Regions from separate parts of the Homo sapiens genome. Here region 2 is linked to region 1. Evidence: fine-mapped expression QTL. Tissue or cell type: testis. Region 1 holds a variant in brackets; the other region holds the start of a gene. All regions are shown on one strand. Distances are between the middles of the regions. Region 1 overlaps LINC01582 (long intergenic non-protein coding RNA 1582). Region 2 holds the start of LINC01582 (long intergenic non-protein coding RNA 1582).

The links. PIP is the estimated chance that this variant, and not a neighbour inherited with it, causes the effect.
Region 2: LINC01582 starts here. The variant in region 1 is fine-mapped to the expression of LINC01582 in testis (GTEx, PIP above 0.99).

Annotation. Positions count from the first base shown.
Region 1 is chr15:98,081,834-98,084,740 of GRCh38, reverse strand. LINC01582 (long intergenic non-protein coding RNA 1582) reads left to right here. Exons shown (of 4, transcript NR_120325.1): 3 at 841-907; 4 at 1,292-1,762. Among named protein-coding and RNA genes, the nearest start is that of LINC01582, 5.5 kb to the left of the region's middle. The variant C/T (reference allele first, on the strand shown) is at 1,381.
Region 2 is chr15:98,087,113-98,090,019 of GRCh38, reverse strand. LINC01582 (long intergenic non-protein coding RNA 1582) reads left to right here and starts at 1,267. Exons shown (of 4, transcript NR_120325.1): 1 at 1,267-1,322.

The DNA.
Region 1 (2,907 bases):
CTGCTTCCCAGGTTCAAGTGATTCTCCTGTCTCGGCCTCTCGAGTAGCTGGGATTATAGGCGTGCGCTGCCAAGCCCAACTAATTTTTATTTTTAGTAGAGATGGGGTTTCTGCATGTTGATGAGGCTGGTCTTGAACTCCTGACTTCAGGTGATCCACCCACCTCAGCCTCCCAAAGTGCTGGGATTACAGGTGTGAGCCACTGTGCCCGGCCAGGGATATATTTTTATACCTTTTGGTTAATATTAATATACTTTGGGTTTTCTTCTCCTTTCTTAGCCTGGGAATATCTAAGCCTTTATCCTTTTAATTTTCCTTTTTATCATCTCTGCCCGAGAGGTGAAGAGGAGTACTAAGTAGCCCTCTCTACTTCTCCTCCCAGCAGCTGGCCGCTGGCTCTGCCTCTACCTGGTCCCTTCCAGGATGTACTTCCGAAGTGGTGGAAGTAGGGAAGGCTCTTGAAGGGAGATACCCATGATTCTTAAAATTATGCACCAAGACACAGCACAGAATCAGAATCCGAGAAAGTTGGATTTCTGGCCCATTCTGCCTCTTTCTTTTTAGCTCACTACTTAATTCAAGGGTTATTGCAAGGATTACAAAAGGTAACGTGTGCAAAATGCTCAGTATATGGCCTCGTACATGCTAGGTGCAGAATGCATGTATGAAAATAATGTTTAATAAAATGTGTATTAAACTAATATCTTTTCAGCAGGAGGCCAAATAGGCTTCTTGTCCACCTCAGATTTTTTTTTTTTTCCCTCACTTTTTTAAAAATCAAGGAGGATGTGAGGAACCAGGAATTGAGATTTGGCATTAATCTTCATTCTTGTTGCCTAGGGTTGGCCTTGCGTATTGGCAATGAAACAGGCTATTTTTGACATTGAGTTGTCCAGCATTCTCTAAGGTGAGGCTATGTTGCATGTTGGAAAGATTTAGCGAATAACAGAGGCAGGCTCCACTCGTTTCCCACTGGGAAAGGCAAGAGCAGCCTGCACACAGAGCCCCTCTGAGGGCAAAACTCACACTGCATGCTGCACGTGAAAACTGCAACAGGGAGTTAGAGATGCCCGGGGCAGTTGTGATTTTCACTGTCCATTTATCTGTAATCATTTTTGTAAGGAAGATTGATGGATGCCGGGGGGTGAGGGTGGGCGGAGGAAGTCACTGCTGCATAGTGATGCACAGAAATTGATATTTCATCAGAAGAAAGCTCTTGATAGTTGTTTCCCTGGCAAGCTGGAGATGACGGACAGTCTTTACTAACTGAGTTGTTTATCCTTCCTATCAGGTATGTAGTCCTGGAGGGCGCTGCTTAATGAACCAGAAGTCCTGCCTCTTAAGTACCTCACCAGCTCAAATGTGTGCATGTCACCTTGG[C/T]GTGAATCGGAGCAGGCGCTGGTGGATACCGTTTGGAGGCATGCCAGCAAGGAGCTCCTTGTGTAGCCTGCCTCTGGAGCCTCAAGTTCAACTTCCATAGGGCCAAAAGGGGAGTCGGGCTGGGCAGAAGCTCCTGAGAACCAAAGCAAATGGTCTGAGAGTCTGAGAGTGTAGTGGAGGTAACGTGTTCGTGTCCTCTCTGGCTGCATCACCCCAAGTCCTTGCAGACTCAAGTAGCCTATTTGCAAGTTTAAATAGTTTGAGTCCTGGCCGGTAACAAGAATACTCTACAGTGGCCCAGAGTCAGGGATATAGAGTGGCGACTACTTGGCAGAACTGGAGCTTGCTCAGATGAAAAGATAAATTGTACTGGTTAAACGAAGATCAAGTGCAGGGTCTGGACTTTGTTTCTATCTTTCATGTGGACTCTATAAGCACCTACACACAGCATTCTAGAAACACTGCTCCCATCCCTCCTGTCTCATGTCATCCTCCCAATTCCGGGAGTTGGGGGGCATACTCTTTCCCTGTGTCATGTGAGAAATTCCTTTCTCATGGGAAGCAGGTGGCATTCCTGGACTCTCCTTGGCCTGGCCGTTGGTAAGCACAGGAATTCAAGGTGTCTGAATCTCTTGTCAAAGGTGGGCTGTAAGGCTCCAGAAGAGGAGGACAGAAAGTGCCTGCAGAGCTCCTGCCTGAGGCCTTTGGATGGGCCCTGCTGGCTTGCCGTGTGTGTGTGTGTGTGTGTGTGTGTGTGTGTGTGTGTGTGGTGTCGTGCTTATTTGCCCCAAATGAGGCAAGAGAGCAGTGATCAGGTGTCTCCCCAGCATCTAGTTTCATGAAGACAATAGAAGTGGGTCGGATCAGGCCTGCTGCCATGCTTGGCTTGCCCATGTCTCCTAGGATTGGCTGCCTGGTGGCCATCCCTTTGCCATCCCCTTGACTGCCCTGTGAATGATGTCCACTCTGAGACCCCAGGCCACTCAGAAAAACTGAAGATTCTCAAGTTCAGGTGCAGTTAGGGGGCAGGTCCTGGTGGTGGGGGAGCTTTGATGTTCTGCAGTTGGAGGATCCTCTTTCAGAATAGTAATGCAATTTGTGAATTAATAAAATTAGGTATGCAAGAGGATATGTAGAAAAGAAAAATCACAAGCTACACAATTTTTAAGTTGACAAAACTACGAACATCACAAAATAATATGATATTTTAAATTAATTATCTGCCTGGAATACTCTGTCATTTTTTTTTGATCTTTTGCCTGCATCGTCTTTGATAGCAGTGTTTTTGATATTGCTTTTTATAGAGAGACTCAAGATAATGGAGTCTACTCTGTTGTGGTTAATTAAACATTTTTTGGTGTTATTCATAGTTTGAGATGTTTCTTTTAGCTTCTCAACCTGCTATACAGATAAAAAGCACTTTCATGTCAGGTAAATATTTAGAATTGTTGCCAAATTTTAAATTTCCTCCATCAATTTTCTTTCATATGTCATATATGAGTTGTGAGATTTGGAAGGATATTTCAG
Region 2 (2,907 bases), 5.3 kb before region 1:
AAACGTACATCAAAAAATGTATACTTCTTCAGACCTTGAAGAAATATATTCTACATTTTTACAGCAGACATTAATGAACCTTTAGTCCTGTGTGTCTGTGGCTGACTGCCACAATTACTACTTGAGACCGTCACTATGACAGTTATTACTGTTACTACTTGAGACCGTCACTACGACAGTTATTGTTACTACTTGAGACCGTCATTACAGGACTGAACGAAAGGACAAACGTAGAAATGATTAAAAAAATCTGTTTTAAAGGAAGGGGAAACCGGGAAGAAGGGAGCTCCCTGCTTCTAGTGAGCGAAGGCAGCCCCCCGAGCTTCCACAGCCCTTCGCATTCATTGGGAGAATGAGCAGGGAGGAGGCCCTAAGACTGGTCAGCTGTTTGATTATCACAAGTTCTCATTACTAACAGGCTTCAGTTGTGTCTAATCCTAAACACTTGCACCTGGGTGGTGACTGCCCTCAGCAGTCCTTCTGGGCGGCAGACACAGGTTGTCAGTTTGCCAACACCCTGCTCTCATGAGAAACAGTTTGCTGCTTACTCACGTGGCCTCCAGTGGTATACTGAGTTGATCACGACCCTCAATCTTTCGGCCCCTAAGAGCCGCAGGGGGGTGGGGAGGTGCCAGGCTGCTGAGGCCTTTGGGTTCCTAGGCTGCTGGCATTTTAAAACCACCACTGTATTCCACCTCCCCTTGGATAACACGCAGAAACAGGCCAAGAAGAAATTACCTGCTGTTGGTTATTTCTATTTCAAATGAATACTAGCTGAACATTTACTAAATGACATTGTCAGGTTTCAGCAAAAGCGGCCTGTAATAGTTGGGTGAGGACAGGGAAAGACTTTGAAATGGGCAGAAAAGATTACGGGATGTCCTGCAGGTTCAGTGTGCTTTGGCCTATTTTTCAACTGTCTAAATTTTCGCCGCCAAAGTCGCCAAAACCGCCTTCGCCGCAGCTGCAGCCAAAGCCTCCTCCTCCTCCTCTTCCTTCTCTCTCCTCCCTCACCTCCTCCTTCCTTCTAGGAAGCTTACTGGAGTGAAACTTGAACGTTTTCAAAAAAAAATCATTAACGCAAATGATTCTTGTCCAAAGAAACAGAAATAATAGAAGTGTGAAGGGGCGTGGGAGGGGGTTGAGATGTGCCGCGTTCAGGCCCGGGGCACCGGCGAGGGTGGGCGTGTGAGCGGGGGGTGGGGGCGTTAACGGTGTCTTCTCCCCACAAATGAAAGAGAAATAGTAAATTCTCCTGCGGGTGGCGAATCAGGAGGGAAGGTGGAGCCCACAATCTTTGCAAACTCTCTGGGGAGCCAGGGGTTGGTAGCTGGGAAGACTTGGGTGGTGACCCTGGGGGAGGGGAAGGGGCCGGGGAGCGGGGAATGGGGGCAGCCCCTGGGGAGGAATGGGAGAGGGAGGAGGACGCCAGGGGCACAGGGACAGCCTCCGGGGCGGGGCGCGGCGCCAGCCTAGCCCGAGGATGGAGGCTGAGGCCGCCTGTTGAGTCACAGGTAAGGGGAGCCGCTCTGGCCAGGCCCAGGGCCGCCCTCGTTCCTCCCGGAGCGCAGCGACAGCTCCTCCCCGCGTCTCGGGTTTCAATGGCTGGGCCTGCCCGAAAGCTCTGGGCCCCCGCGTCCCAATTTTTTCTTTATTTTTGAAGGATAATATTGCTGGACATAGAATTCTTTGTTGACATTGGTCAGCTCTTTGAATATGTCATCCAGTATCTTCTGGCCTCCGTGGTTTATGGTGAGAAATCAGCTTACTGAGGATCCTTGAACATGACTTGTCTCTCTCTCGTGCTTTCAAGATTCTCTCAACAGTTTGATTATGATGTGTCTGACTGTGTATCTCTTTGAGTTTACTCTACTTGCAGTTTGTTGAGCTTCTTAGATATGTAGATTGATGTTTTCCATCAAGTTTGGGAAGTTTTGATTCGTTATTTCTTCAAATATTCTTTCTATCCCTTTCTCTGTCTCCCTTCTTTCTGAAGTTCTTCTAATCTACATCTTGCTTTGTTGCTGATGTCCCAAAGGCCTCCAAAGCTGTGTTCATTTTCTTTCTTCTTGTTCTTCAAACTAGATAATATCAATTGACCTATCTTCAAGTTTGCTATACTCTCTTCTGCTTCTTCAAATTTTGTGCTCAGCTCCTATAGTGAAATTTTCATTTTAGTTGTACTTTTTAACTCCAGAATTTCTATAAATTTTTCAAAAATATGTAATTTCGATCCCTTTGTGAATATTTGCATTTGGTGAGACATTGTTTTCATAATTTACTGCAGTTGTTTAGACACACATTCTGTTAGCTCTTGGAGCACATTTAAAATAACCAATTTTAAAGTATTTTCTAGTAAGACTAAAGTCTGTACTTTCTCGGAACCGTTTCTATTAGTTGCTTAATTTCCTATTATAGAGCCATACTTTGTTTCTTTACATGCCTTGTAATTTCTGTTGATGACTACTTAAAATAATACATTGTGACACCTCTTAAAATCATTATCTCCCTCCCCAGAGTATATTGTTGGTGCTGCAATTTTTTAGCTGTTTTGTATATTTAATAATTTTTTTGAACTAATTCTACAAAGTCTGTACTCTTTGTTACTTGTGGCAACTGAAGTCTCTATTTGGTTAGCTTGGTTGTTGAGTAAGGATAGGACAGAGATTTCTGTAAATACCAGAAACCAGTAAATCTCCAAGTCAGGTCAAATACAGACAATCTTGCATGTGGAGTCTTCCAGAGTATTACCAGACAGGTCTGACGAGACAGTTCCGAAAGGACAAATCTTTGGGAATGAGGCTTTAAAAACAGCTTCATTCTGCTCACTCTGGTGGCTCCAGTACCGCTCCAGGAATGTGGGGTGTCATTTTTCAAGGCCACTGCAGGAAAGGAAAGTGAGGCATG